Homo sapiens: one gene and its partner. The protein of the gene in region 2 purifies or fractionates together with the protein of the main gene of each other region. This does not show direct contact. Each region holds a gene or a part of one and is shown on either strand. Other genes may lie near its edges.

The links.
Region 1: the proteins of SPIDR (region 2) and TOP3A purify together in Homo sapiens (affinity purification with mass spectrometry; one study listed by BioGRID and IntAct). This does not show direct contact.

Annotation. Positions count from the first base shown.
Region 1 is NC_000017.11:18,308,350-18,312,005, forward strand, and holds part of TOP3A (DNA topoisomerase 3-alpha), read right to left. Parts: intron 593-3,656; coding exon 533-592; intron 76-532; coding exon 2-75; exon of another isoform or gene 1-1. UniProt on the Homo sapiens protein: Releases the supercoiling and torsional tension of DNA introduced during the DNA replication and transcription by transiently cleaving and rejoining one strand of the DNA duplex.
Region 2 is NC_000008.11:47,267,367-47,271,022, forward strand, and holds part of SPIDR (DNA repair-scaffolding protein), read left to right. Parts: intron 1-3,656. UniProt on the Homo sapiens protein: Plays a role in DNA double-strand break (DBS) repair via homologous recombination (HR).

The DNA of each region.
Region 1 (3,656 bases), on a different chromosome or scaffold from region 2:
CCATTTTCGAAACTGCATCTGGAAATCATGAGCCAGTAAATGTCCAGAAACTGAAGTCATTACCATGGTAACATTCTGAATGATGACAAAATTCAAAATTCAGTTAGTCTTTTTGCAGTTATTATTCTGCCAAATCATTAAAATGAGAGGGAGGAGCTTCTATTAAAGACATTTTTAAAAACCTGATTGGGAAGAAATAAACATAAATATAAGCTCTTCAAAGCCAAAAGTCACAGGAATACAATCACCATTCTAATGATATGGTGTATAACTGACGCCTCTTGCATCAGTTAAATTTTCCTCAAACTATTGTATATTAGCTTTTTTTTTTTGTAATGAAGAGCTGAGATGGGACCATATTTTATTAAAAAGAGAACTCCTCATAAATTATAAAGTGATCACCCCATATCCAGGAACCTTTAGGTTGTTAACAGTTGTTATTCTTAAGACAGCGACATATTCTACATATGACGAGGCTGACTACTTTCTCTTGCTTATGATTGAAATATTTTAGAAATATTTTAGCACCTACCTGGCCATACAGATGATAATCAAATTCATAGATCTTGTTGAATTTTGAAAGTCCTTCTCTCTATAAAACAAAAATAAGTAAAAAATATAAATTACGTTTAAAACAATGGATTCCTTTGTATAATTCTTTCTGATCCTGAATTTGGCAATGATTTCTTGGTTATGATACCAAAAATATAACCAACATTGCTCCAAAGAAGATAAGAAATGGCCAACAAGCATATGAAAAGATGCTCAATGTTATTAATCATTAGGAAAACACAAATCAAAACCATGATGAGGTACCACTCCATACCCATTAGGATAATAATTAAATAGAATAATAAAAAAAACAAGTAAAATAACAAGTGTTGTTGAGGATGTGGAGAAATTGGACATTGTCAGTGGAAATGTAAAATGCTTTGGCCACTCTGGAAAATGTTGGTGTTTCCTCAAAAAGTTACAGAGTTATCACATGTCACAGCAATTCCACTCCTACAAATTTACCCAAAAGAATTAAAAACGCATTCAAATACACTTTGGGAGGCTGAGACAGTTGGATCACTTTAGGTCAGGAGTCCGAGACCAGCCTGGCCAACATGGTGAAACCCCATCTCTACTAAAAATACAACAATTGGCCAGGTGTGGTGGTGTGTGCCTGTAATCCCAGTTACTTGGGGAGGCTGAGGCAGGAGAATCACTTGAGCCCAGGAGGTGGACGTTGCAGTGAGTGGAGATGGCGCCACTGCACTCTAGCCTGGGTGACAGAGCGAGACTGTCTCAAAAAACAAAAAACAAACAAAAAAACACATTCAAACAAAAACTTGTACATGAAAGTCTATAGAAGTTCTTTTTTTTTTTTTTTTTTGAGATGGAGTCTGGCTCTGTCGCCCAGGCTGGAGTCCAGTGGCGTGATCTCGGCTCACTGCAAGCTCCACCTCCCGGGTTCACACCATTCTCCTGCCTCAGCCTCCCGAGTAGCTGGGACTACAGGCACCTGCCACCACGCCCGGCTAATTTTTTTGTATTTTTAGTAGAGATGGGGTTTCACCGTGTTAGCCAGAATGTTCTCAATCTCCTGACCTCGTGATCCACCTGCCTCGGCCTCCCAAAGTGCTGGGATTACAGGTGTGAGCCACCACGCCCAGCGAATGTCTATAGAAGTTCTATTCACAATAGTCAAAAGATGAAAACAACCCAAATGTCCATCAACTGATGTATGGTAAAATGAAATATGATCTATCCATATGATAGAATATTATTCAGCCATAAAAAGGAATGAAGAGGCCAGGTGCAATGGCTCATGCCTGTAATTCCAGCACTTTGGGAGGCTGAGGTGGGCGGATCATGAGGTCAGGAGTTTGAGACCAGCCTGGCCAACATAGTGAAACCCTGTCTCTACTAAAAATACAAAAAATTAGCTGGGCGTGGTGGTGGGTGCCTGTAATCCCAGCTACTTGGGAGGCTGAGGCAGGAGAATCGCTTGAACCTGGGAGGCGGTGGTTACAATGAGCCGAGATCTCATCACTGCACTCCAGCCTGAGCGACAGTGAGAGAGACTCCTTCTCAAAAACCAAAAAAAAGGAATGAAGAACTGATATTAATACATGGTACAACATGGATGGACTTCAAGATTATGTTAAGTGAAAGAAACCTGACACAAAAGAGCATGTAAGATATGGGTCCACTTATAGGAAATGCCCAGAACAGGCAAATCCATGGGGAAAGAAGGCAGATTCGTGGTTGTGAGGGGCTGAGGAGAGGGTAAGGGGAGTGACTGCTTAATGGATATGAGGCTTCCTCTTGGGGTGAAAAAAAACCTTCTGGAACTAGATAATGATGATGGTGGCACATTTAGTGGACAAAATTCCACTGAACTATATACTTCAAAATGATTAAAATGGTCAATTTTCTGTGCATTTTACCACTCAACCTACATGGCTCTCTAAGATTCTTATGATCTGCACTCAACTGCTGCTCTTGCTTAACTCATCGGTGTCTCTTCCCACCACACCACACCCCTAACTTCTCACTGTTTCTGAATATGCCAAGCAGTTTCAAGCCACTAGGTTGTTCTTTACAGTTTCTACTGCCTGGTAAAACTTTCAGGCTCAGCTCAAACATGCATTCAACAACTATGAATTTTTTTTTTTTTTTTTGAGACAGAGTCTCACTCTGTTGCCCAGGCTGGAGTGCAGTGGCACAATCTCGGCTCACTGCAAGCTCCACCTCCCGGGTTCATGCCATTCTGCTGCCTCAGCCTCCCGAGTAGCTGGGACTACAGGCGTCTGCCAGCATGCCCGGCTAATTTTTTGTATTTTTAGTAGAGACAGGGTTTCACCGTGTTAGCCAGGATGGTCTCAATCTCTTGACCTCATGATCCGCCCACCTCAGCCTCCCAGAGTGCTGGGATTACAGGTATGAGCCACCATGCCTGGCCTAATTTTTTTTTGAGATGGAGTCTCACTCTGTCGCCCAGGCTGTAATGTAATGGCGCAATCTAGGCTCACTGCAAGCTCCACTTCCCGGGTTGAAGCGATTCTCCTGCCTCAGCCTCGTGAGTAGCTGGGATTACAGGACCCCGCCACCACACCTGGCTAATTTTTGTATTTTTAGTAGAGATGGGGTTTTGCCATGTTGGCCAGGCTGGTCTTGAACTCACGACCTCAGGTGGTCTGCCCGCTTGAGCCTCCCCAACTGCTGGGATTACAGGCATGAGCCGCTGCGCTCAGCCCAAGTATTAATATTTATTGAAAGTTTCCTGCATTCCAGACACCATATTAGGCGTTAGGACATAGCAATTAACAAAATATAATCACTGTCCTTTGGAGTTTAGAGTCCAAGGAGAGGCAGTGACAAAAATCAAATAAATGATCGCACATCCCATTATTTAACTGTAACTAGTAGATGCCTTTCAAGTAGAATAGAGTGCTATGACAGCATGTCAGTAAGGGTCTCTGACCTAGTGTGGGGGAACAGGTGGTGAGGGAAGGATTCCTTGAAGATGAGACATTTCAGCAGCCTCTCTCCTCTAGCCGCCCCAGATGCCAAAAGGAAAGATGGCCAAGGGGAAGAAGTGGCCCTGGCCCCTGTTGTCATGGAGCAGCAGTAGGCCAAAAAGGTGGTAAATCCCATTTGAGAAAAGC
Region 2 (3,656 bases):
TTTCTTTCTCTAGCAGTGGAATTTTTGGGTCACATAATAACTGTATGTTTACATTTTGGATAACTGTTAGAATTTTCCAAAGTGGTTGCACCTTTTACAGTCTCACCAGCAAGGAATGAACATTCTAATTTTGCCACATTCTTGCTAACACTTGCCATTGCCTGTCTTTTACTTTTAGTCATCCTAATGGTTATGAAGTGTTACCTCACTGTGATTTGGTTTGCAGTTCCCTAATGAGATTGAGCATCTTTTCATGTACTTATTGGGCATTTCTGTATCTTCTTGAAGAAATGTTTATTCAGCTTATTTGGCTGCGTTTTCATTGGGTTATTTGCTGTTTTATTGTGGAATCACGAGTTCTTTAAAATTCTGTATACTGTTCCCCTATAAGATGTATGATTGCAGATATTTTCTCTCATTCTTTGGGTTTTCTTTTCATTTTCTTATTGAAGTACAAATGTTTTTAATAATTTTGATGAGGTCCAATTTGTTTTTTCTTTTGTTTCTTGTGCTTTTCGGTGTCATGTCTAATAAATCATTGCCTAAACCAAGGTCACAAAGATTTATTCCTATGTTTTCTTCCAAGAGTTACAGTTTTAGCTCTTACATTTAGGTCTGTGATTCATTTGGAGTTAATTTTTCTACACACTGTGAGGTAGGGGTACAACTTCATTCTTTTCGATGTGGATACCCAGTTGTTTCAACACTGTTTGTTGAAAAAATTGTTCTTTCTCCTTGAATTGTCTTGGCACTTTTTTGTTTTAATTGAAAATCAGTTGACCATAAAAGTAAAGGTTTGTTTCTGGTCTATGAATTCTATTCCACTGATCTCCATGTCTGCCTTTATTCTAGTACCATACTGTTTTAATTACTGTAACTTGGCAGTGTTGAAATTAGAAGTGTGAGTTTCTGACTTGTTTTCTGTTTTGAGATTTTTTTAACTGTTTTGGGTTCATTACATTTCCATATGAATAATAGCAGCTTGTCAATTTCTGCAGAAAGCCATCTGGGATTTTGATTTTGTTGAATATATAGACAAATTGGAGAGTATTATCATCTTAACAATATTATTTCCCATGAGCATGGGTTGTCTTTTCATTTATTTAGATCTTCTTTAATTTCTATCTATGTTTTACAGTTTTCAGTGAAAAAGTCCTGCACTTCTTTGGTTAAATTTATTCCTAAGAGTTTTATTCTTTTTGATGCTATTTTGAATGCAGTTCTACTGGCACATGCTGCTGCACGTGGCTAATATTTTTTGTTAATTTTTTGGTAGAGATGGAGTCTCGCTGTGTTGCCCAGGCTGGTCTCAAATTCCTGGGCTCAAGGGATGCTCCTGTTTTGGCCTCCCAAAGCTCTGGGATTATAGGCATGAGCCAGCCGCACCCAGCTCCATTGATTTTTTTAAATATTGAGATTGTATCCTGCAACTTTGCTGAACTCATTTATTGGTTCTAATAATTTTTTGGGTTTTCTGAAGTGTGGATTCCTTAGGATTTCCTGTGTACAAGGTCATGCAGCTAGGCATGGTGGCTCACACCAGTAATCCCAGCACTTTGGGAGGCTGAGGCGGGTGGATCACTTCAGCCTAGGAGTTCGAGACCAGCCTGGGCAACATGGTAAAACTGAGTCTCTACAAAAAACACAAAAATTAGCAGGATGTGGTGGCTCATGCCTGTGGTCCCAGCTACTCGGGAGGCTGAGGCAAGAGGATTGCTTGAGCCGAGGAGGTGGAAGCTTCAGTGAGCCATGATTGTGCTACTGCACTCCAGCCTGGGCAACAGAGTGAGACCCTCTCCTTTTTTTTTTTTTTTTTTTTTTTTAAAGGAGGTAGAAGCTTCAGTGATCCATGATCGTGCTACTGCACTCCAGCCTGGGCAACAGAGTGAGACCATCTTTTTTTCCCCCCAAGACAGAATCTTGCGCTGTCACCCAGGCTGGAGTGCAGTGGTACCATCTCAGCTCGCTGCAACCTCTGCCTCCTGGGTTCAAGCTATTCTTCTGCCTCAGCCTCCTGAGTAGTTGGGATTAGAGGCGTGTGCCACCATGCCTGGCTAATTTTTGTATTTTTAGTAGAAACGGGCTTTCACCATGTTGGCCGGGCTGGTATTGAACTCCTGACCTCATGATCCGCCCACCTTGGCCTCCCAAAGTTCTGGGATTACAGGCGTGAGCCACTACACCTGGCCAACCATGTCTCTTAAAAAAAAAAAAAAAAAGAAAGAAAACAAAATACCATGCTGTCTGTCAGTAGAGATGAATTTACTACTTCCAATTTAGACATCTTTTATTTCTTCTCCTTGCCATGGCTAGAACCTCCAGTCAAATATTGAATGTAAGTGGGAAGAGTTGACATCCTTTCTTTTTCCTTCTTTTAGGGATAAAGCATCCAGTATTTAACTATTCTGTATGATGTTAGCTGTGGGTTCTTTGTATATACATTTTTATCAGGTTGAGGAAATAACCTTCTATATCTAGTTTGTTGAGTTTTTACTGTGGAATAGTTGTTGGCCTTTGTCAGTTGCTTTTCCTACATCTAATTGAGACAATACTGTGGTTTTTATCCTTTATTTTGTTAATATATGACATTGATTGAATTTTCAATATTACATTAACTTTGTATTCCTGGGAAAAATCTCTCTTGGTTATGGTGTATAACTCTTTGTATATGTTGCTGGATTCAGTTTGCTAGTATTTTGTTGAGGATTTTTGCATCTATATTCATAAACAGTTTTGCTCTGTGCTTCGTTGTTATGTTTTGGTTTTATCAGGGTAATACTGGTTTCATGGTGTGAATTAGGAAGTATTTCCTCTTCTGTATTTTGGAAGAGTTTGTGAAGGATAGATACTGTTTCTTAAAATGTTTGGTATAAATCACCGTTGTACTCTGAGCCTCAGCTTTTCTTTGTAGGAAGTTTTAAAGTTATGACTCAATCTCTTTGTTTGTTACAGCTCTCTGATCAGTTTTTTATTTCTGAGTCGGTTTTGCTAGTTTGTCTTTCTCGGAATTTGTTCATTTTATTTTAGTTATTTAATTTGTTGGTATGTAGTTCATATTATTTCCTTATAATGTTCTCTGTAATCTTTTGGGTTTCTGCAAAATTGGTAGTGCTTCCTCACTTTCTTCTATTCCTGAGTTTTGTAGTTTAAATCTTCTCTTCCCCGCCCCCAAACCTCCTTGGTCAGCCTAGCTTGTCAATTTTGTTGATCTTTTTGAGGAACTAACTTTTTTTTTTATATTCTTTGTTGTTTTTCTATTCTCTCTGTCATTTATTTCTGCCAGATGGAAGTTTTATTGACTAAAGATTTTTCTTCTTTTTAAATGTAGTCATTTACAGCTACAGATTTCTCAGTAAGTACTGCTTTAGCTGCATCTATAGGTTTTAGTGTATATTGTTTTCATTCCTTTTAAAGTTATCTTCTAATTTTCTCATGATTTCTTTTTTTGATCTATTGGCTGTTTAGGAGTGTGTTTAATTTTTGCATACTTGTGAATTTTCATTTTATTTTTATTGTAAGGTTTAAATTTCATTCTATTATTGTCTAAGAACAGTATTACTATGATTTCACTCCTTTTAAATTTATCGAAGCTTGAGTTATGGCCTAACATGGTCTGTCGGAGAATGTTTCATGTTTACATTAGAATAATGTGTATT